3 linked regions of the Homo sapiens genome follow. The protein of the gene in region 2 interacts with the protein of the main gene of each other region in a pairwise test. Each region holds a gene or a part of one and is shown on either strand. Other genes may lie near its edges. The genes, in order: TTC19, FAM136A and MAGEB4.

The links.
Region 1: the proteins of FAM136A (region 2) and TTC19 interact in binary tests that used the Homo sapiens proteins (3 or more experiments, as listed by UniProt).
Region 3: the proteins of FAM136A (region 2) and MAGEB4 interact in binary tests that used the Homo sapiens proteins (3 or more experiments, as listed by UniProt).

The regions. Positions count from the first base shown.
Region 1 is NC_000017.11:16,022,975-16,030,550, reverse strand, and holds the end of TTC19 (tetratricopeptide repeat protein 19, mitochondrial isoform 1 precursor), read right to left. Parts: intron 5,535-7,576; coding exon 5,380-5,534; intron 4,012-5,379; coding exon 3,849-4,011; intron 3,178-3,848; coding exon 3,029-3,177; 3' UTR 1,147-3,028; downstream 1-1,146. UniProt on the Homo sapiens protein: Required for the preservation of the structural and functional integrity of mitochondrial respiratory complex III by allowing the physiological turnover of the Rieske protein UQCRFS1.
Region 2 is NC_000002.12:70,298,568-70,307,550, forward strand, and holds the start of FAM136A (protein FAM136A), read right to left. Parts: upstream 3,501-8,983; 5' UTR 3,445-3,500; coding exon 3,037-3,444; exon of another isoform or gene 2,414-3,036; coding exon 2,273-2,413; intron 1-2,272.
Region 3 is NC_000023.11:30,237,644-30,245,777, forward strand, and holds MAGEB4 (melanoma-associated antigen B4), read left to right. Parts: upstream 1-4,356; 5' UTR 4,357-4,492; coding exon 4,493-5,533; 3' UTR 5,534-6,544; downstream 6,545-8,134.

The sequences.
Region 1 (7,576 bases), on a different chromosome or scaffold from region 2:
ATGAAAAACAGTGACTAAATGTTCCACTTCACAGTTTTCTGCTGAATTTTTTTTTTTCAGGTACTGGTAATATTTTAGAGTTTGTTAATAATTTATATTGCCAACCTACCATAAAAGAGATTATGATGGTATTTTTCTATGACCCTGAGGGTCTTAAGCTATTCTGAGTCAGAATACAGTTGACCCTTGAACAACACGGGTTTGAACTGTGTGGGTCCACTTATACATGGATTTTCTTCCACCTCTGCCACCCAAGATAGCAAGACCAACCCCTTCTCATCCTCAGCCTATTCAACATGAAGATGACAAGGATGAAGACCTTCATGATGATCCACTTCCACTTAATGAATAGTAAATATATTTTCTCTTCCTTATAATCTTAACAAACATTTTCTCTTCTCTAGCTTACTTTATTGTAAGAATACAGTATATAATACATATACAAAATATGTGTCAATCGACTATGTTATCCGTAAGACTTCTGGTCAGCAGTAGGCCATGAGTAGTTAAGTTTTGGAGGAGTCAAAGTTAGATGTGGATTTTTGACTACTTAGGGGGTCTATGCCCCTAACTCCTGCATTATTTGAAGGTCAACCGTATAGTTTCTGAGAACATGTCAGATCAGAGCCTAACTTCTTACTCTTGCAGTTCTACCTGAGGACCCGAAGGTGAGGTGCTGTGAACCACTCCCTCCATCCTCATCATAATGCATGTGCGTATTACTTTATTTACCATCACCTGGAGAAGAAATCTCAGAATGAGAGTTAAAATCCAATAATAGTTCTTGGTTCAAAATAAATGAAAGGACAGAATTCTCACATGGTTTACCTATGGAGGTTCACCTTATCATGATTTAAGTGGTAAGCACAGAGCAGCACTGACAACTTACTGTGGTTCACTGCAAACCAAAACATGATATTCTTTGTAGACTTAGATTTCAGTGTTCTGACACTATATCCTTACACGTGATTTTTTTAGCACCCAGAACTAAATTAAGGTCTTCCTAATACTCTTCATAAAAGTATTCTGACAGCCAGTTTTCCACTGCATGTTTATGACTGCAAATTTCATAATGCTTTTAATTTTGGTACACTGAGTGATTCTATTTTAAAAATATTTATGCCCAGAAAACTCCAGTGACCATTGGACAGTTAAAAAATTTTAATGACACGATTTTAACCAATTCACTTTTGAATTTAGACCAATCAGTAAAGGAGATCAGTCCTCCTTTTGCTTCAGTACCTTATTTTACAACAGTGTAAATGAACTGTAATGAAAACACCCACATGAAGAGACTGTCCTGAAAACTCCTAGTGTTTCCAACAACGAGACCATGAGCTGAGTCACTGTGGATGATTTAAAATTAATAAATAAATAAAACTTGGAATGAAAAACCTTTCAGTAACCCCTGCAGTTGTGAAAAGGTAAAAACATTCTCAATGCAAAAGGTGAGTGGTTGACATTAATTTTTTTAAGAAATCACCATACGTTAATACTGGTTTCTACTGAAACAGTCTGATTTATATTGTATCTTATCTCTCTGAGCTAGACTTGGTAAACGGCATTAGCTGCATGGTAAATAATATGAGATTAGACAGAAAATAGGAAGAAATTTACATCTGCAACATACAAAACTCTAGTTTTAGTCTAATCCCTGAGGATTTGGACCTCAAGGTTTCTGGTGTTTTTATTTTCTTCAGAAAGTTTTTTTTTTTTTTTTTTTTTTTTTTTTGAGAAATGCAAAGATTACTGGGATACATACAATATTGTTGTGTAGTCTCATTTATTATGAAGATTCTTCCAGTATGTACATACGAACCAAAAGTATCAGTTTATCAGTCCCACTCACATCCCACCCCCACAGGCATACCAACAGGGTCAATCTTCCTTCATGGTACCTAGAAAAACTGTCTTTTTCCTTAGGTAAATGGCTAAAAATGTATTCATGACTGCTGCAGTAAGAGCATCCACCTATGTATCTTTACATACTTTGAGACAGTGTGATAAAGCTCTTTCAGCACAGCAGTCTATTCATTCAAAGTCATCTAACCAAATACCTTCCCCCACAGCTAAGAAAGAATCCCAGTGTTTCCCTAGTTTAGAGATGAAGATACTGAAATTGCAAAAGCAAAAAGGCTAGGACTAAGATCCAGGTCAGTAGTTCAGCTATACCAGCAGTACACATTAGAATTACGAAGAGTTTTAAAATATACCTGTAGGGGCCTATTCTGACTCAGAACAGCCTGGGCTGTGTGTCCTTAAAGAGTACTTGAGATGACTCAGTTGTGTGACTAAGGCTGCAAAGGAAGTAGAGTGTTCAGATAACACAGACAAAAGGTTACATCATTCTTAGTTTTTAGTTTTATATAAACACCCCCATTTTTAGTTTTATATAACCAGATAAATATGGTTCACTTTTATTTAAATTCAAATGGGTGCTATACTGTCACGTGCCTAATCCCCACTTTACAACTTCATGCTGGATGCTGGTAGCAAACTAAGATATTTTTCTCTTTTATGTATTAAATTCCACTTGTGCTTCATGAAACAGACTATAAGAACAACAATTCACCATAATCCCCCTTTGCCATGAGGAAGGTAATTCTGGTCAGTTTGCCAGGTATTGATAAAGTAAAGTAAGAGAAGACAGGGCAGCAAATCAGCAGACCAAAAACTTATGGTAGAAATGCCAGGCTGAATCACCACACCCACAGCGCACAGGAACACCAGCCCATATGAATCTACAGTTCTACTTAGACCAGCAGGGACAGCACCAAGTCACGTGTTACAACTGAAAGCATCACTTGACGACATCCTGAAAGGTCATAATCAGTTGGGAATGAAAGTCATTTTTCCTTTAAAATACAAAAATGGCAGTGTGTACAACCCCTCCTTCACTAAGGCTAAATTGAGGAAACCTGAATATCAAAAACGACAGATTTAAGCCATTGATCGGGTGCCACAGAGACAGGAATGATAGCTATTCTTCCACATTACTAGACATTATTCTCCCTACACAAAAATGGATTTAGAGCTTGACAGAATTTGTCAAAGGTCTACTTTTCTTTGACAGCTCAGCCAACTCTTCCCTGATGTGTTGTACAGAAATTTCATCTTTTTTCAGCTTTGCTTGCTTCAGTGCTTCCTGGTAGATCTCTTTTGCTTGTGTATATCGTTCTAAAATAACCCAGAGAGAAGGGACAGTAAGAAGAAAGTGTATGTTTTCAAGGTGATTCTGAAGAGAGAGCATGAATGCAGATATAGGGCTAATTTACTGTGTGCTTATGAAGCGACAAGCTGGTGCTGCCTCATTTCATCCCCATCTGACAGGCTGGAACTCCACTGAATGCTGTGGGATTCCTAACGGCCCTTTCCAGTATATCCTGAGGACTTTGATGAGCCCAAGATTTCATGAATGGTGGTATGTGTAATACACCTGTCATCCCAGGTTTCTGAAAATGATCGGTATAGTGTGCTGACACTAAGAAATGTCTGACAAAATGATACTTCCTGTCATAAAGCTTCACCAGCACACTGTGAGAAACACATTGTAACTGAACACATTTAGAAATCTGTAAAGCACTACTGACGTAAGGTACTATCATTGCAAGGTTTTCTCCAGCTTGATGGGGTTCGACAGGCTAGTGCAGGTCTGTAGAAGTTACGTGAATTGAACACAATAGTACTTCAACCTAATCAATACCTCCTTTTTCTGCCATTCAACCAGTCTTTTAATTTACATGTTTATTCGTTGGCCCTTGCCCTCCCTACATACCACTTCACAAATCTATCAATCCAGTGACATCCCTCCCTTAAAGCAAGTCAGTTAAGTTTACATTGCTACCTACCTCTGTGCATCAAAACTGCAGCTAGATTACTGAGTACCATGTGTAGCTCAGGATGATTTATCTGTCTTGCCAGATCTGATGCCCTTTGCATATAAATATAGGCCTCATCAAAGCGGCCCTGTGCATCCAGGGTAGTAGCCAGGTCACTCATCAGCACAATGGTCTGTATGTAAAAGAAAAAACAATTTTTTCTTTAAAAACATGCCTTCACAGAACTTTAATGTGGAGTGCATCCAACTCTGAATACATAAGATTTCATCTTTCCTAGCATTCCACAAAAGATGAGGGATACCATTCTTTAACAAATTTGTGGGCATTTGTTAATCATAATCACATTGTACAGTGGACAATGTTAGTTCGACCTTTTGGGAAATAATACAAATCTGGAAATTAGGTAACAGACAGTGCTTATTAATCCAACTAATTACCCAGTTAGAAGCACCAAATGAAAAACAACAGCAAGAAGCTACACATATTATCTCCTTTAAGGCTGAGCAACTTTGAGAAGCCAGCCTCCTATGGTTTGATTGCCTCTGGAGCCCCACTGTATTATGTTGTTCCTGCTGATAACCCTGAGGCTCATCAAAAACAAGAAATACACCATCTATTTTAGGAAGATGCCCAGTAGGAGTTTTTTTAATTTGGCTACTGAAATGGAATTTCAGTATGGAAGAGGTAGACTTCCATACCTACTTCCCCACTGATGCCATGCTTTAAGCCCCCTGACTCTAGTACTTGGAGATCTGAATTCTGTACTTGCTTGTTTATTATTCCTCACTCCATTAAGGGACTCTTCATAATAAGTTATAAATCCCTTTCATGGAGATAATTCATAGCTCAACCTCCCTTTTCTTCCAAAACATATTACTCACCCTACCCATGTACCCCAGCCTTGGGACACATTCAGTTAAAATTGTTATGTCTTATATTGGCAGTAGCAAGCATTCATAGACAAAGCAATGCACTCCTTACATCTAAGAACTTACTCGGATGGAGGGGAGACCCAAAGAGATGATTTCAATTCAATGTGTTTAATGTTCTAACACAGAGCTTTACACGTTATACTTAAATTCTATAATATGCCAATGGTTTAAGTGTTTTTAATGTGGTCCCTTGCCCTTCCCTCACCTCTTGCCATTTTAACTGTGGGGCAAGGGAGGCAAGGATATTTGTGTATTAAACCGTTCCTCATAAGCTTCTAATAGGGGTATCTAGAGACCCCACTCTGAAATACTGTGCTGTGTCCATTGAAGCCTGACCAGTCCTGCTCTGTAGAAAGGTTGCTCTGTTGTGCAAACCATGGATCATGCAAAAAGTTCTGGGCAGACCTAGTAACTGATAACTAGTCTCAAATCCTTTCTGAAACAAGTAGTTGGGGTGAGGGTGCTGGTGATAAGAAAATGAGTAGACTGGGGACCAAGGAGGATCTAGGACCATCTGCTGATCCTGTTACCAATGAGTGTGACATTTCACACCCTTCAATTTTGAAGCCTTTGTTTTATATTCCCCCTTCTGTGTTTTCCTCCCTTACCTGTGGGTGTCTTTCTCCTTGTATTTCTTCAGAAATCTGCAGAGCTTTTTCATACATCCTTTGTGCCTGTGACGGCTGCTTGGAGAACAGAAGGTAGCGAGCACAGGCGTCTAAGCACATGCCCAAGAGGAGGTGGGTATTGGCTTTCTCTTCCACTAAGGAGAAAAGAGGAATCAGCAAATCTACCCAAATGGTTGTTACCAGGACCCACAAATATGTCAGCAGAATGGGACCCACATGTCACTTAGGGAACAATGTAGGTGAATTAACATCCAGTTAAATGACCTATTCCAGACTAGCTGGAATCATGGAACTTCAGCCCACATTTTAAGTAGATTAAGAGTCCGCACATCAATTAAAATGTGGAATGTTATTTTTAGTTTGAAACAAATAATATTCAGCAGAAACAAATGAAAATAAACCCAAAGAAGAATGAGTTAACAACAAAAAGTCAAGGCCAATGAAAAACCTGTATGGTATAAGAAAAACAATGCAGGAAGAAGACAGAGAACACTCAGAATCCTGAAGTGCAAAGTCACAAGCTGAATTTAAAGAATTCAACGTAAAGGCCGGGCGCGGTGGCTCACACCTGTAATCACAGCACTTTGGGAGGCCGAGGCGGGTGGATCACAAGGTCAGGAGATTGAGACCATCCTGGCTAACATGGTGAAACCCCGTCTCTACTAAAAATACAAAAAAAAAAAAAAAATTAGCCAGGCGTGGTGGCGGGTACCTGTAGTCCCAGCTACTCAGGAGGCTGAGGCAGGGGAATGGCGTGAACCCAGGAGGTGGAGCTTGCAGTGAGCCGAGATCACACCACTGCACTCCAGCCTGGGCGACAGAGCAAGACTCAGTCTCAAAAGAAAAAAAAAGAAAAAAAAGAATTTAAGGTAAAATTTAAACAAGCTAATCATTCAGAGAAGAAGAATAAAGCTTACAATGACATAGCACCTCTCAACACATTCAAGAATTGACTATACGATGTCTGAAAAAAAACAAGCTTAAAATACCTAATGCCATGTAAGAAGAATTGGAGACACAGATCTAGAGAACGGTAACCTATATCAACCTGGGTAAGACTTCTAAAAGATGATACAAATAATGTAGAAATGGTCATAAGCAAGATTATATGGAAATTCTGCCAACAACTCAGCAGGAGGTAACTGTTCACACAATAAAAGACTAGAAAAAGAGGTTACCTTAGATAATCTTAGGTTCAGTTGGGTTTATTTACCAGCAAAGCTGTCGTTCATATCAAGCCCGTTCCCTTCTATGTCTTCAGTTTTCAGAAATCTTACAAGTGGCATAGAGTTTAAGGAAGACTATGTTACTAAAATGAGACTTTTCTTTTTTAATACCTTCCCATTTAGAAAAAAAGTGCAGCTTGCTTCTATATCGCTTACCTAATTTTACATAAATATACTCTTTGAGGCTGGAGCAAATCTGATTTTCAATGTGAAAATAAACTATTAAAAGTGTTCTTGGAGTTATTTCTACAGAGAACTAACACCAGAATCGTCTGTATCATCAGACTCGTCTATTTCTGAAAAATCGGATTCATCAAATGAATCTTCAACCAACAACTATTCGAGAATGATGTTAACATCACGCGTAGGCATGCTATGTTTTCTAGGATTTGACGTCTTCAGCGATCAAGAATTACTGTATTTTGTAAATGGAAATACCACTACTAAAAACAGAATGCTATAAATAGAATGATGTCTTGTTTCCAAAGTTGATATACTAGAGCAATGTGAAAATGATAAAAGCGAGATATTTTGTGGCAACGATTTAAAAAGATGTTCAGTAGTAAAACAAAAGTACAAGAATAAAGTGACAAGCAATTCTAGTGGAAACTTGTTACCCTTGTTATCACTGAATAGTGGAGTGGAAGCAAAAGCAGTAAAACTTTTTAGAGAAAACAGTGAGGTACAATTTAGCTATAATATCTTAAAAATACATTTAAAATTCACAGCACATTCTGACCACAAGAAAAATGGAAACACTTTCTGAAAAGCAAACTTTTCTAAAGATAAATGTACTATTACTGAACTTTTAGAAAACGTAAGAAAACTTTTAGCAACTGCCAAGAGAAAATTTCATAAAGTTCCCCCAAAGAGTTCCTTTGCTAGTAATTTACTTAAACATGGTTCTTTGAAATATTAATATAAAAATTGCTAAAAGTTAGACAAGAAAA
Region 2 (8,983 bases):
ATGTGGAGGAATTAGTTGGATATGTGAATGTGGAGTTTATCAGTGAGCTCTGGCCTACAGATATAAATGCAGGAGCTGTCAGCATAGAGATTATATTTACAGCTATGAGGCTAGAGGAGACTAGAGAAGTAGGCAGAAAGGAGAAAAGAAACAAGGACAGCCCCAGGCACTCTGATGCTCAGAGGCTGGAGTGGGGAAGAGAGAGCAAAGGAGGCCAAGGAAGGAGGCAGAAAACCAGGAGAGTGAGATGTCCTGGTGACCAACTGAATAAAGTGCTTTAAGAAGGAGAGGGATCCACTGTGTCAATGATGCAGACAGAGTAAGATGAAGACTGAGAAATGACCCCCGGATTCGGCCCCATGGGGGTGAGTGGCAGGAGTGGTTCTGGCCCAGTGAAGAGTGAAAGTCCACTTGGAGAGGACTAAAAAGATAATGCAAGGGAAGTTATAGAGCAATCCAAGAATCACATTTTCAAAGACCCCATCTATAAAATTAGCTGTCAAAAAGAACACAAAGAAACCCTTTGGGGTTCCATGATCTTGAAGAAGTTATTCCTTCATAATGGCAGTAACTTTGAAGCGTTTTGAATGGAAGAATGTAAAGATGTGTCACATTATGTATAAGTTTCCATGTGGATGGAACCTCAGGCTATGAAAGGCTGGCTTGGAAGTAGGCTTGCTTCCCCCAGGTTCCAGAAAAATATACTTAGAAGATGGGAGTAAAATGAAGTTGTGGATACTCTTTGCTCCAGAGAGGGAAACAGGGAGCTCTTTTGGTAACCTCAGAGGGGCTTGTGAGCCAGGAATCAGTGAGTCAACAGTAATAATGATTCACATAAATGACTGCTCCTTAGTGACAGAGGGGCTGCCCTCTGGGTATAGCAACTAGGGGCAGTCCTGGGTGGGTGTATAAGTCCACAAAATGGTGGAAGGGTGTTCCTCGAATCTGTACCTTTTCAAGGCTATCCTACCTTTCTAGAGATTCTGCTGTTTTAAAAATAATATATGTTTTAGGAAACTTTATTTTTTTATTTTTATTTTATTTATTTTTTGAGACGGAGTCTCGCTCTGTCACCCAGGCTGGAGTGCAGTGACGTGATCTTGGCTCACTGCAAGCTCTGCCTCCCGGATTCACGCCATTCTCCTGCCTCAGCTTCCCGAGTAGCTGGGACTACAGGCGCCCACCACCACACCTGGCCAATTTTTTGTATTTTTAGTAGAGACGGGGTTTCACTGTGTTAGCCAGGATGGTCTGGATCTCCTGACCTCGTGATCTGCCTGCCTCGGCCTCCCAAAGTGCTGGGATTACAGGTGTGAGCCACCGTGCCTGAACATTATTTATTTTTTTTTGAGACGGAGTTTCGCTCTTGTTGTCCAGGCTGGAGCGCAATGGCATGCGATCTTGGCTCACTGCAACCTGCGCCTTCCAGTTTCAAGCGATTCTCCTGCCTCAGCCTCCCGAGTAGCTGGGATTACAGGCACCTGCCACCATGCCCAGATAATTTCTGTATTTTTAGTAGAGATGGGGTTTCACCATGTTGGCCAGGACGGTCTCAAACTCCTGACCTCGTGATCCACCCGCCTCGGCCTCCCAAAATGTTGGGATTACAGGCGCGAGCTACGCGTCCAGCCAGGAAACTTTATACTACACAGTATACATTCTGTATTTGGTGGTTATGTCAAAAGGAACAAACAAACGCCTCCTCCCCAACAAACTGCATAAGGGCTCTTGGTCATGAACTCCCCTGGTAACTCCCCATTACATCATTTCTTTTTTTTTGAGACAGAGTCTCGCTCTGTTGCCAGGCTGAAGTGCAGTGGCGCGATCTTGGCTCACTGCAACTACACCTCCTGGGTTCAAGAGATTCCCCTGCCTCAGCCTCCCTAGTATCTGGGACTACAGGTGCGTGCCACCACGCCTGGCTAATTTTTTGTATTTTAGTAGAGACGGGGTTTCACCATGTTGGCCAGGATGGTCTTGATCTCCTGCTCTCATGATCCACCTGCCTCAGCCTCCTAAAGTGCTGGGATTACAGGCATGAGCCTCCGCGCTCGGCCTACATCATTTCTATAGGAAATGATGTTCAACTTAAGGCACTCGACCGCCAAGACTTTTTCCAAAATTTCAAACCCTGTGAAAACTGGTTGGCCATCAGTATCACAACTGTTAACAGAACCAAGACACTAAAGCCAAGAGTTTTGAACAAATGCTTGTCATCTCCTGCAAAAGTCTGTATCAAGGACTACAGTGCTCTGTCTAGGATATTTCTCACCTGGAACTTCTCCAGCTCACTGGTGACCAAAGCCTGGGCTTGAGCCAGAGGCACATGGCAGCGCTCGATGCACTGGTGCACCTGCTTCATGGAGGCCTGGCTGTCCTCACAACAGCTGGCGCTGCACCGGAACATGAGACCCTGGGGAGAAAGGGCAGAGAGGTTAGGTAGGAAAGTCTCTGGGGACAGAGATGACTATGGAGCACTACAGGAGTTAGAAGGCCACGTGGATATTTGCACCTCTCTCTCCACCTTCTGCTTTCACCTTCCCTGAGAATAGACACCAGGACCTTAAAACCACCACTGGGGAAAATTATCCTCAATGTCTAGTGTAGTGTTTCATGGTGTCCTTGCTGCTAGCTCATCGGCACCTGTTGCACCGATGGTTGGGTGAACAGAGGTTCGCCCGAGTGGGTGAGGGTAGGGTGGTCTGACGAAGCCAAATTCTGAAAACCAGGAGCCTCTTCCATGGGGTTCAGAGGTCAGCAACCTAGCAATACAAATTCCACCAGAGGGCAGCCGACCCACTAATCAATGACTCAAGGGGCACTATCTGGGAAACGCATACTCCGTGAGAGAAGCAGGACCGAAACACACAGAGGCATTGCGGGGCTCAGAGAAGAACAGTGTAGAAACCCGCGCTGTGTGAAGCGAGGTTGGGCGCAAGAGAAGCAGGCATGACCTGGCCAACGGGGAGGCCGGAAGTCCTCGCCTTTCTGGTCTTTCACGTTGGCAGCGCCTCTGCTGGGCCTCGGGCCGCTCACCTGCGGAAGGGGCCGCGTAAGAGGGGAAGGTGGTGGGGCGAGCGCCTGCCACCAGGGGCTTCCCACCTGCCGCCGAGGACGCTCCTGCCCCGGGCTGGAAGGGGCGGAAAACAGCCTCGCGCACGGCAAGGGCACACGGATTTCATCCGATCCGCCAAAGCTTCCGAAGTCCTGTCCGAGGCCGCCCCGGCGACCCCAGGGCCGCCCACACCCGGTCTGCGGGGACGCGGCTGCAGTGCAAGGCGTCGCGTGGTGGCTGAGGGAAGGGCCCGGAACCCACCCGCTGAGAAGGGGGTCCTGGTTCGGCCCCAGCCCCGCTACCTGCATCTTCCGGATGTTCTCTCTTTCCAGACTCTTCACCATGGACTCCACCGCCTCCTGCACCCGGAGCTGCTGCAGCTCAGCCATGGCGACCCCGCGCTGCCCCGCGGCGCTCCGCGCCGGCGCCCATATGGAATCGGCGTACGGGCCCGCCCCCTCACCGCCCTTCGCCGCCCTTCGCCGCCTGCCCTTCCAGGGCCCACGCCCCCCCCTGGCGGCCGAACGGAGCCACTGCATGCTGGTGTCCGCGAGCCCACCGCCCTCCTCCCGCTTGGGAACCGGTCACTGGGACACCTGCCCTGCGGCTGCTGCCTGCCTTTCCTCCTCCCTCCCATGTCCCTCCCTTTACATTCTTTAAAATTATTTAATGTAATTTACATACAGATAAATGCCCAGATCTTAGGCGTGCTGCTTGATGAGTTTTAACAAACCCTGTCCGCCGGGCGCAGTGGCTTACGCCTGTAATCCCAGCACTTTGGGAGGCCGTGGGCAGGTGGATGACCTGAGCTCAGGAATTTGAGACCAGCCTGGCCAACCTGGCGAAACCCCGTCCCTACTAAAAATACAAAAATTAGCCGGGTGTGGTGGCACATGCCTGTAGTCCCAGCTATTTGGGAGGCTGAGGCAGGAGAATTGCTTGAACCCGGGAGGGAGAGGTTGCAGTGAGCCGAAATCACGCCATTGCACTCCAGCCTGGACGACAGAGTGAGACTCTGTCTCTAAACAACAATAAAAACCCAAACTCTGTCTTGTCCCAATCTCCGTCCTTTCTACCCCATCTCCCCACCCCTGCCCTAACTGGTCTGCTTCTGTCACTGTAGATTACATTTTCTCTTTCTAGAATGTCATATGTATGTTATTATCCAATAAGTACTCCTTTTCTGTCTGGCTTTTTTAGCATATTGCTGAAAAATACTTAGCCTAATGCTTTCGAGATTGAGCTGTGTTGTTGGTTCTTTTTTGCTGCTGAGTAGTATTCTATTGAATGGACATACCACATTTGTCGTTGTTGTTTTTTGAGACAGGGTCTTACTCTGTCACCCAGGCTGGAGTGCAGTGATGTGGTCTCGGCTCATGCAGCCTCCACCTCCCTGGTTCAAGTGATTCTCATGCCTCAGCCTCCCGAGTAGCTGGGATTACAGGCATGTGCCACCACGTCTGGCTAATTTTTTTTTTTTTTTTGTAGACACGGGGTTTCACCATGTTAGCCAAGCTGGTCTCCAACTCCTGAGCTCAAGGGATCCACACACCTCGGCCTCCCAAAGTGCTGAGATTGCAGGCATGAGGCATCGGTCCCGGCCCACATTTGTTGATCCATTCCCCTGCTGATGGGTGTTTGGGTCTTTTCCACTTAGTAGCTATTATGAATAAAGTGGTGACTATGAACATCCTTGACCATTTTTTTTTTCTTTTGGAGATGGGATCTTGCTATGTTGTCCAGGCTGGTCTCAAACTCCAGGCCTCAAGCTATCCTCCTGCCTCTGCCTATCAAAGGGATTACGGGTATGCACCACCACCCAGTCCTGGACCAAGTCTTTTGTAGACACAGATTTTCTTTTCTTTTGGGTAAATATCTAGAAATGGGATTGTTGGATCACAGGGTAGATGTATGTTTATGCATTTATTTCTCATAAAAAATGAACTTCAGAGACAAAGCAGGGGCTACAGATCATCAATGAAGCAGTCATCAATGAAGCACTTACATGCCAGCAACATGAAACTGTTTCTGAATTCCTGGAGCAGTTTTTTTTTTGGAATGCCTCACTGTCCCACCCATAACAGTACTGTCGTGTGCATTCATTTATCGAATACATTAGCTAGGGGTGCGGGTCCAGAGGGGAGTGTCAGTGGAGAAGGGAAACACACTCCGTGGAGAAGGGGAAGGGGCAGTGTTGGAAGAGGTGTGCTGGAGGAGGTGGTCCAGGCTGGCAAGGAGGGAGTGAGCCATCCGGGTTCCTCAGGAAAGTTTTCTTAGAGGAGATAAGGCTTGAATTGAGGCTTTGAATTGAATTGAAATGAGTGGGTGTTTGCTTGGCATATGGGGCTGAAGAGAAAGCCATGTCAGGCATGGGGGTGCAAGGTGGGGGTGGGGGAGGAACAAAGGAATGGGGCCGTCATTAGAATTTAACGATTTTCTGCCATTGGGCGCTAGATGGCAGGAGAACTCTAGTTTAGGGCAGTGGGGAGTTTGACTCAACCCAAGCTTCTTTGAAGAAAGCTATGTTTTGATTGGGCACGGTGGCTCACGCCTGTAATCCCAGCACTTTGGGGAGCTGAGGCAGGTGGATCACCTGAGGTCAGGAGTTCAGGAGTTTGAGACCAGCCTGGCCAACATGGTGAAACCCCATCTCTACTAAAAGCACAAAAATTAGCCGGGCGTGGTGGCAGGCACTTGTAGTCTTGGCTACTTTGGGAGGCTGAGACAGGAGAATCGCTTGAATCCGGGAGGTAGAGGTTGCAGCGAGCTGAGATCACGTCACTGCACTCCAGCTTGGGCAACAAAGTGAGACTCTGTCTCAAAAAAAATAAAATAAAAAATAAAAGCAAGCAAGCAAGCAAGCAAGCAAGCAAGCAAGCAACCAAACAAGCTGTGTTCTTCCAGCGCCAGGCCCTCTCTAGTGAGTACAAGTGTGAGTATCTCCCCATAAATCACAGTTCAGGGTCTTGAGACAGCCTGTTCACTTCAAGCTCGACTACAAGTGGCTCCCAGCAGCAGCTGGAATCAGGGCGACACCAACTATTAAATAATGTGCCAGACAGTGTTTTAAGTGCCTTCCACGGGATGATCTCATTTAATTTCCATGACAAAGCACCCTATGAGGTGGGTACTTTACTCTCCTCTCTTCTCTCACTCAGGGCAGAAAACTGAGGCCTAGGGAGATGAAACCACTTGCCAGAGATTGCACATTTATAAACTGGTGGAGCTGGAATTCCAATCCTGATGGGCTAACTCCAGACTAGAAAAAGTAGGAAATCTCTATTGTGACTGACTTAATGTTTATACTTATGTCCCATATTCCACAGAAAGTTCTTTCTTTCTTCTTTATAGCACAATCTGAAACTACTCACTTCTCCCTCTTATTCCTAAAATGCCAGACAGAACCTCTCCAACAGCTCCTACTTGTAGGAGCCAAGTTAATCATGCTAAAATGAGTTTAAAAGTCCTTGAGTAATGCAGCCTTGTTAGTTTCTATACACAAATTGAATGGTACTTTTAGTATTTACGAAAAATGATTCTTGGCTGGGGCGGTGGCTCACATCTGTAATTCCAGCACATTGGGAGGCCGAGGCGGGCAGATCACTTGGGGCTGGGAGCTTGAGACCAGCCTGGCCAACGTGGTGAAACCCCCATCTCTACTAAAAATATAAAAACATTAGCTGGGCATAGCGGCACACACCTGCAATCACAGCTACTCAGAGGCTGAGGTGGGAGAATCACTTGCACTCAGGAGGTGGAGGTTGCAGTGAGCTGAGATGGTGCCACTGCACTCCAGCATGGGTGACAGAGCGAGACTCTCCCTCAAAAAAAAAAAACAAAAAAACAAAAAAACAGAAAAAAAAAAACCCAGAAAAAAAAAAAAGAAAAATGATTCCTGACTTCCAGTTAGTTGGCTGTGGAAATCCCATGGGAGTCATGGTGGAAGCAGAGTTTAATCTCATGTTAGGAAGCTCAGATACCTGTCTGTGCTATTACCCTGGTGCTTTGAGGGTGGGAAATGAGGTTTCAGGATTATCTGGCTCAAGCCTGGGCTGACTCACTGGAAACAAGTCACAGCTCTTTCAGGATCCTGGGTAGTCAGTTCTGTCATCTTGATTCCTTTCCCACCTCTCCTGCATGCCATCCTGTGAACGCAGGCCCCGCAGTGCCAGAGACAAATGGTGGCACAAGAGGGACTAGGGCTCTTTCCTATTTTCTCATGTTCAGGATGTGGGTGAGATAAATGGGGGCCAGGAGGCCCGGGATGAGGGGAGGAAGTGAATTTTGCTAGATGCTGCTACCTTTTCTAACCCTCAGGTTAGCAATGGGTGGTAGCCAGAAACCCAGCTATGGCCAACCTTGGTTAAAGACTTCCAGATGAAACTTTATCAATCAAACTGATAATTTAGAAAGCAATTCTCATGTTATCACTTGTTTTTAAATTAATGCCAACAAGAATGAGATTGAAGTGTTATCACTCTCTAGTCATGACACTCCTTGGTCGATTATGATGCCTTGCTGGGGAAAAGAAAACTCACAAGCAAAGAACACTGTCTTCTGCAGAATGAAGAATTCAGTCAACTTTTTGGAAGTCACAAGTACTTTTTAAAAATATATTCAATTGCTGGCCGGGCATGATGACTCACGCCTGTATTCCCAGCACTTTGGGAGGCCAAGGCGGGTGGATCACTTGAGGCCAGGAGTTCGAGACCAGCCTGGCCAACATGGCGAAACCCCGCCTCTACTAAGAATACAAAAATTAGCTGGGCGTGGTGGCGAATGCCTGTAATACCAGGTACTCAGGAGGCTGAGACATGAGAATCACTTGAACCCGAGAGGCAGAGATTGCAGTGAACCGAGATCACGCCACTGCACTCCAGCCTGTGCGATAGAGACCTTGTCTCAGGTTAAAAAAAAAAAAAAAATATATATATATGTACACACACACACACCCCCCCACACAATTGCTTCAGAGCTCTCTGCCAAAAAAATACATATATATTCAAAACTTTGGTTGAATAATTATTTTATATATGTATATTATTAAATATAAAATAAAGCAAATGTTTTATGATTATAAATATCCAATTATGTAAATATCTCTTGAATCTATTCACATCTCTCTAGCTTACTGTTATCACCCTAAAGCCACTATTATTATTATTATTGCCTGGCCTACTACAGTTGATCCTGTTTAAATCTTCCTATTGTGGCTAGGTGGTGGCTCATGCCTATAATCCCAGAACTCTGGGAGGCCGAGGCAGATGGATCACTTGAAGCCAGGATTTTGAGACTGGCCTGACCAACATGGTGTAACCCCGTCTCTACTAAAAATACAAAAATTAGCCAGGCACGGTGGCATGGGACTGTAATCCCAACTACTCAGGAGGCTGAGGCAGGAGAATCGCTTAAACCTGGGAGGCAGAGGTTGCAGTGAGCTGAGATTGCTCCACTGCACTCCAGCCTGGGTGACAGAGCAAAATTCCATCTCAAAAAAAAAAAAAATCTTCTTATGGAGTGGTCATTTACTTGCTGGCTTGTTGACTGTGTATATATATATATATATATATATATTTTTTTTTTAAATTAAATTAAATTAAATTAAATTAAATTTTTTTGAGATAGAGTCTCGCTCTGTTGCCCAGTCTGGAGTGCAGTGGCGAGATCTTGGCTCACTGCAACCTCCACCTCCCGGGTTCAAGCAACTCTCTGCCCCAGCCTCCCGAGTAGCTGGGATCACAGGCACGCACCACCTGCCTGGCTAATTTTTTGTATTTTTAGTAGAGACTGGGTTTCACCATGTTGGCCAGGCTGGTCTTGAACTCCTGACCTTGTGATCCACCCGCCTCGGCCTCCCAAAGTGCTGGGATTACAGGCTTGCACCACTGAGCCCGGCCTGTCGAATATATTTATATAGTCTTGTAATGG
Region 3 (8,134 bases), on a different chromosome or scaffold from region 2:
CTAAGACCAAAAGGATACATGATAAGAAGGGAGGGAGGTGGTTCCACATGAGAACAGTCAAGTATGAATTATCTAATCAAGGCGGTGTTGGGCCTAAGGAAAGTGCAGGTCCCTCAATGGGAGTTAATCTAAGTGAGGCTCCATGGTGGGCTGGATGAGGCTGTGGGAATGGCGAGCAGGGGCCAGGCTCTTAGAAGTTGCCTCTCACGCAGTGGCGGGCGCCTGTAGTCCCAGCTACTCGGGAGGCTGAGGCAGGAGAATGGCGTGAACCTGGGAGGCAGAGCTTGCAGTGAGCCGAGATTGTGCCACTGCAGTCCGGCCTGGGCTAAAGAGCGGGATTCCGTCTCAAAAGAAAAAAAAAAAGAAGTTGCCTCTCAGAGGTGCGAGACAAAGCTTGGAATAGGAAACAGTTCTTAACAGTTACTTTGGGATCATGGATAAATCAGGGAGAATCTGGGGTAGGAATGTGTCCTGTGCTCTTGTCCCAGTACAAATAAACACAGCACACACTAGGTGTTTTGTGCACATCATCTCCAGCCAGTTTCTGAGAAATAAGGGTAATACCCTCAAGGGACGGGGGAGGCCCAGAAGCCACTGTGCTGGTACTCTTTGCCCTGGGCTGGGGGATCCAGAGCCTGTTCCATTAAAAGCGCATTCAATTAGGTTACCTCATTTGTGATTTGGCAAACTCTAGGCAAGGTCTAGATTTTGAGAGGTGGTTAAATGAATCAAAATAAAAGTGGTTTAGATGGAAGGATAGCTGAGAGAGAGGGAAGTTTTTGGTCCTTGAAACTCATTTTAGAATCTGTGTTGCATCTACTGAGGAAGTCTACCTCATACTAATATTGAATGATCTATCAAGTAATGAGGAAATATTATTTAGTTTTCCTTTCTAGGTAGCACTTTGTCTGATAGGGCTTTCTTTGTCTTAGAATATGGTATAATCTCTGACATCTCCTGCATTGAAAAATAAGTCCCAGTGTAGTAGATTGCAACGTCAGGGTACAAATTAATCATAATAAGAACTGGCACTATTATATGTCTCAATACATCTCAAGCACTTTACATACATTGTATACATTTTACCAGTCCTACAAAACAGAGCTTATCAAACCCACTTCACAGATAAAAAGCCTGAAGCCCACAGTCTATTAATATGTCCAATTTCACATGGCTGGTAAGTGACAGGACTGGGACAAGACCCCCAGTCTGAATTAGTGTAAAGCACACTCTGTTCCATGCCTCCCAACCTGAGACTGACTGTGTCCCCTTATTCACTTTTCTTCTCACTACTCCCAAACGTATATCAAGTGATGAAAAGATTCTGTACCCAATCTGCTGGACTGAAATACAGAACCAGAGCAAGGAAATTACCAAAATGGTCAAGAGGTGTGAATTAAGGAGAGAAAGATAATATTTGGTGACAATAAGATTACACATGCAAAGTCAGATAAACTCAAAAGATCATGGGGTCACATTCTGTCATTCTGGACTGTCCCCCTTTTTATAGGAAGTTAAATCTTTTCCAAGAGAAATACATAAGAGGGTAGTAAAGAGAAGAAATAGATCAATGTTTTTTTTTTTTTTTTTTTTTTCTCTGACAGTATGACTTCTATCCTCGGGCTTCTGCCTTGTGTTACAGCTTCCCTATCTTATATCACTCCTGGGACAGGGATGCATTGTCTGCAAGATTTATTATAGGGAAACTGATCAAGAATTTTTAGGGATGCGGCATTTCCCAGGAAGTCATTAACTAAGGGACAAGAGCCAAGATAAAGACCTTCATATAGGAGGACTCAGCAGAACAACATGCCAGACAGAGTTCTTAGCCTGAGCATCTCCTCACTTATTCTTCAAGGTTCTCAGGGACTTGTGAGTTCCTGCATCTCGGGTCAGTAGAGGGAGGAGTGCCATTCTCTGACACATACCAAGTTGAGGACCCTGAATGAAGAATGAGGGAAGCACTCACCCAAATAGCCTTAACAGGATGTGGCTGAACCTGATTTCTACTCCGGAGGTCTTAAGAAGGTAAAGACCATGATCTGAGGCTGGCTGACTCAGGTCCATAGAGGAAGGATTCCTAATGTGTGCCAGGAGTAAAGTGAGTACCCTGAAGAGTGCAGGAACCACCAAACCCCTATCAGTGGGGATCCCACAGAATCCTCCCTATTGTCACCTCTGAGAGATTTAGGCATGAATGTCAGAAAGAGGCACCCTCATATCCTCAGTAGTAACAGAGAAGTGAAGGTCTTGTTCTGAGGTGGGCAATCCCAGCTCAGCAAAGGGAGGAATATTAAGCCTTCCTGTGAGTGAGATTTAGGATCCTGAGTTAGGACCTGAGTAGGACAATCCACCATAAGACCTCAACCTGTCTACCACAGCTGCCACTCTTGGGAGACCATGGTCAGCTGTGGCCAGATAAGGCCACCCTCTTCCTCCTATCTGATCTCAGGGAGGTGCAGGCCTTTTAAATGGAGAGGTCTTCAGGTCAAAAAAGAGGGGAGCCCTAGGATCTGCTAGGAGCCAAATCAAGGAAACCGAGTGAGAACTGAGGGGACTGCTCACCTCTGAATAGAGAGAGCAACAGAGTCCACCCCCCTGCATAACTCTTAAATTGCCAGGGCAACATGTAAGGCTGAGGACTCACCATCACTTTTTTTTTTTAATAATTGACCTTCTTTTTTAGAATAGTTTTACGTTCACAGCAAAACTGAGCAGAAAGGAGAGTCTCACAGGCATCCTGTCCTCCCACAGACACAGCCTCCTTCATATCAACCTCCCAAGCCAGGGTGATACATTTGTTACAATTGAGAATACATGGACACATCATTATCACCCAATGTCCGTAGTTTAGGATTCATTCCTGTTGCTGCACATTCTGTGGTTTTAATATTTAAAAATGTATAATGACATATGTTTACCACCATAGAATCATCCAGAATTGTTTTACTGCCTTAAAAGTTCTCTGTGCCTGATCTATTTATCTCTCACTCTCCCCAACCTTTGGAAACCACTGAACTTTGTACTGTTTCCATACTTTTGCCTTTTCCAGAATGTCATATAGATGGAATTATGCAATGTATAGACTTTTCAAATTGGCTTCTTTCACTTTGTAATATGTATCTAAGTTTCATCCATGTCTCTTTGTGGCTTGATAGTTCATTCCCTTTTAGTGCTGAATAATATTTTATTCTGTTAATTTATCCACTCTCCTTCTGAAGGACATATTGCTTGCTTCCCAGTTTGGGCAATTATGAATAAAGCTACTATAAACATTTGTGTGCAGGTTTTTTTTGTGGACATACCGTTTTCAACTCATCTGGCTAAATAACAAGGAGCGCACTTGCTAGATCATATGATGAAAGTATGCATAGCTTTGTAAGAAACTTACAAACTGTCTTCAAAAGTGGCTGTATCATTTTTCATGTCCATCAGCAATGACAGTGTGCTCCTGTTGCTCCACATCCTCATCAGTATTTGGGGTTATCAGGGTTTTTGATTTTGACCATTCTTATAGGTATGTAGTGGTATCACATTATTGTTTTAATTTGCAAGTCTCTAATGATATGTGATGTTGACCATCATTTCATGTACGTATTTGCCTTCCATATATATTATTTGTTGAGGTGCCTGTTTAGATCTTTTGTCCATTTTTAATAGGGTTGGTCAGTTCTTATTGTTCAGTTTTAAGACATTTTTGTATGTTTTGGTTAACAGTCCCTTATCAGATATGTCTTTTGAAAATAATTTTTTCCCAACCTGGGAGTTATCTTATTCTCTTTGTGGTATCTTTAGCAGAGCAGAAGTTTTAATTTAGCGAAGTCCAGATTATCAATTATTTTCTTTCATAGATGCCCATCACATTTTATACCAGAACTAGAAAAGATGAAATTCTTGGTCTGAAGTTGCAGTTATCAGTCAGCAGAAGAGACAGTCCACAACCCTGCTTGGAGTCCAGATGAGGATCCTGAGTGCAAACTTGGGACCTAAAGAGCCCAGGACAGAGAGAGCACTAAATGCTTCTAGGCAGGGGTGGTGGGTTGAGGGGCCCCTAGACTTCCCTCATCTGGGTCCCAGAAAACTAAAGAGTCAATTTCACAACACCAATAGAGGGAGGCTCAGGCCCTGCCAAGAGCTGACATGACAATTCTAAAGGTAATCAGAGTGGATCCTCTCCAAGCCAGAACACAGAAAGCCCCACTGCGAGCCTTGTTGTCACCCAGTCAGCCCCAGGCAGGGTTGGCAAGCTGCAGCCTAAGGCACATTGTAACTTCCTCAGCTGGCTTCTCAGGGGACAGAATGACTAAGAACAATAGCCCAGTGAATACTTAGAGCAGTGTTCTCAAGGAATCCTGCAGAGGCGGCTTCTGAAAAGCCAAGGTAGTATCTGCCTGCTGAAGGTGTTCTCAGGATTTCATTTGCTCTTCTCCAGGAACCACATCACCTGCCCTTCTGCCTACACTCCTGCCTGCTGTGCCTAACCACAGCCATCATGCCTCGGGGTCAGAAGAGTAAGCTCCGTGCCCGTGAGAAACGCCAGCGGACCCGTGGTCAGACCCAGGATCTCAAGGTTGGTCAGCCTACTGCAGCAGAGAAAGAAGAGTCTCCTTCCTCTTCCTCATCTGTTTTGAGGGATACTGCCTCCAGCTCCCTTGCTTTTGGCATTCCCCAGGAGCCTCAGAGAGAGCCACCCACCACCTCTGCTGCTGCAGCTATGTCATGCACTGGATCTGATAAAGGCGACGAGAGCCAAGATGAGGAAAATGCAAGTTCCTCCCAGGCCTCAACATCCACTGAGAGATCACTCAAAGATTCTCTAACCAGGAAGACGAAGATGTTAGTGCAGTTCCTGCTGTACAAGTATAAAATGAAAGAGCCCACTACAAAGGCAGAAATGCTGAAGATCATCAGCAAAAAGTACAAGGAGCACTTCCCTGAGATCTTCAGGAAAGTCTCTCAGCGCACGGAGCTGGTCTTTGGCCTTGCCTTGAAGGAGGTCAACCCCACCACTCACTCCTACATCCTCGTCAGCATGCTAGGCCCCAACGATGGAAACCAGAGCAGTGCCTGGACCCTTCCAAGGAATGGGCTTCTGATGCCTCTACTGAGTGTGATCTTCTTAAATGGCAACTGTGCCCGTGAAGAGGAAATCTGGGAATTCCTGAATATGCTGGGGATCTATGATGGAAAGAGGCACCTTATCTTTGGGGAACCCCGAAAGCTCATCACCCAAGATCTGGTACAGGAAAAATATCTGGAATACCAGCAGGTGCCCAACAGTGATCCCCCACGCTATCAATTCCTGTGGGGTCCAAGAGCTCATGCAGAAACCAGCAAGATGAAAGTCCTGGAGTTTTTGGCCAAGGTGAATGACACCACCCCCAATAACTTCCCACTGCTTTATGAAGAGGCTTTGAGAGATGAAGAAGAGAGAGCTGGAGCCCGGCCCAGAGTTGCAGCCAGGCGTGGCACTACAGCCATGACTAGTGCGTATTCCAGGGCCACATCCAGTAGCTCTTCCCAACCCATGTGAGATCTAAGGCAAATTGTTCACTTTGTGGTTGAAAGACCTGCTGCTTTCTCTGTTCCTGTGATGCATGAATAACTCATTGATTTATCTCTTTGTTGTATTTTCCATGATGTTTCTTAAAATAGAAAGTTTATTTAGATTCAGAATATAAATTTAGAAATGGCATGCATCACACATTTATTGCTGTTTATCAGGTTGGTTTAGTGATAATAATTTTGTTTTTGAAATACAAATAGAAAATCCTGAAATAATTTTTGTGATACAGAGCAAAATAACACGGCATGGGAGTAAGGTTATCCTTAGAAATTTAAAATAACTCCACAGTAAAATAGGTAGAATCTGAAGATAGAAAGGGAAGAAAAGTAAAAGTTGCTTTATTCGTGGTTTGTCTTACTCAGTTCAGTCTTTTTTTGCTCATAAATTTAAAAGTTACATACCTGGTTTGCTTAGATTATTCAAGAATGTGGAGGCCTGGGCCAAGGTCAATGACAGTGTCTCCATTGTCTTCCCTCCATTAAGAGAAGACTTTAAGAGATGAGGGAGAGAGAGCCAGAGACAGTGTTGCAACTGGGCCTGGCATGTTTCAGTGTGGTGTCCAGCAGTGTCTCCCACTCCTTGTGAAGTCTGAGGTATATTCTTTACTTTTGATTAAGAAAACACTTAACCTTCTAATTAATGGAGAGCCAAAGGGGAGTTGGTGGGAACACCATGTATAACATATTTGTATGTAAAATGATTTATCTTTTCTTTTTCCTGTTTTTCAGTGTTCTTTTTTTAAATTGTAGATTTATTTAGTTTCAGAATCTAAGTTTATGAATGGCATGAATCACTCATTTATTAAAATATATCAGGTTGGAGAGTGAGAATTTTTGCATTATGTAAAACAATTTAAAAATCTTTTAAGTCTTTTTCTGTGATCTAGAACAAGATAATATGGCATTGGAATATGGAATTTGTGAAAAGGAAATTACCTTGCAATAAAGTTGGTGGGACCAGGAAGTAGAGAAAAAAAAAGTAAAATGTGGTCAATTCTTGCTTTGTTTTATTCTTTTTAGTCTTTCTTTGTAAAACTGAAGTATATGTACCCGGATCTGCTTAGCTTTTTCAGGAATGTGGGGGAAATTAAATAGCAATACATTTGACTTCCTGGTCACTTACACTTCAATTGTCCAAATATTAATTGAGCAGCTGTACTTTGGAGGGCTCCTGGCTAGTACCGGATAAGCTAAGAAAACAAAAAACAAACAAACAACAAAAAAACCCCAATCCCTGCCCACAGAATTTTAGAATCCAACAGCAGCTATCATATAACGAAGGTAATGAGATACTCCTTAAGACCTAAAGACAGGTGAAAAGGGGATAAAAAAGAAGGTGGGGGTATTACCAGCAGTGGAATCTAGTGTAAATGTCCTAAGCAAGGTAACTGAGACTTCGGGAAACTGAACATACTGCAATAGGAGGTAATTTTATGTCCTGGCATAGTGCCTATATGGGGCGCACTGAGCAGGGGTCACACACTCAGATGGTGGATCTCACACTTGAGAGATGGAGACTGGAATGAAAAATTGCCTTTAACAGTTACTTTGGGATTGTGGAAAAACCAGAGGGGATCTTTGCCTGGAGCAGGGATTGAAAGTGGCCGGTGCTCTTGTCCCAGTGCAAGTGAAGTGAATCCAGTACACAAACTAGGTGTTTTATGAGCGTAGTCCCCAGGGTGTTTCTGAGAAATAAAGGTGATACTCCTTTAAGACTGGAAACTCATAAGCCACTGGGCTAATACTCTGCTATCAGCTGGGGAGCCAGAACCCATTCCATTAAAAGGAATTTTTTTTCCTTTCATGTGTTTTTGCAAATTCTAAGGGAGATCTAGATTTTTGATGGTGGTAAAATGAATGAAAATAAGACTGGTTTGGATGAAAGGTCAGAGTTGGTCCTTGAACCAAAGCCTAGAAGGTTTGAGTTGCTTTCAGCTGAGAAAGACAACTCCACACTCAAAATATGATTTAATATGGAAAAGTTATTTAGAGTTTCTTTGTAAGCTGCGTTTTGGGCTGATTTTATTGTTCCATGTCTTAGAATGCTGTATATTCTTTGTTATCTCTTGGACTTAAAGAAAATCAGCAGGGTGGATGATTTCTTCTGTAGTTGAAATAATCTTAGTAATAACAAGTATTGTTTAAAGTCTCAATGCACACCAGGGCTTTGCACACTTTCACCACATTCCACCAGTCCTACAAGACAAGGCTTATCAAGCTCATTTCACAGATGTAGAGCCTGAGGCTCATAGAGTTTATTAATGTGCCCAAGTTCACACAGCTAGTAAGTGATAGGGCTGGAACTAGACTGCTGGTCTGAATTCCTCTAGAGCCCACACTGTTCCACTCCTCCCAAACTGAAGCTTACTGTGAATTGCTTAATTCATTTTCTTCTACAACCCCAAAGTGTGTCTCAGGTAAGAAAGAAGAGGTCTCTGTACCCCAAACACTGGATTGGAATACATAACCAGAGCAAGAAGAATACCAAAATAATTGACAGATGTGAATTAAAGAGAAAAAGAAATAATACTCGGTGACAATATGATCACCGACAGAAGCAAAATTGGAT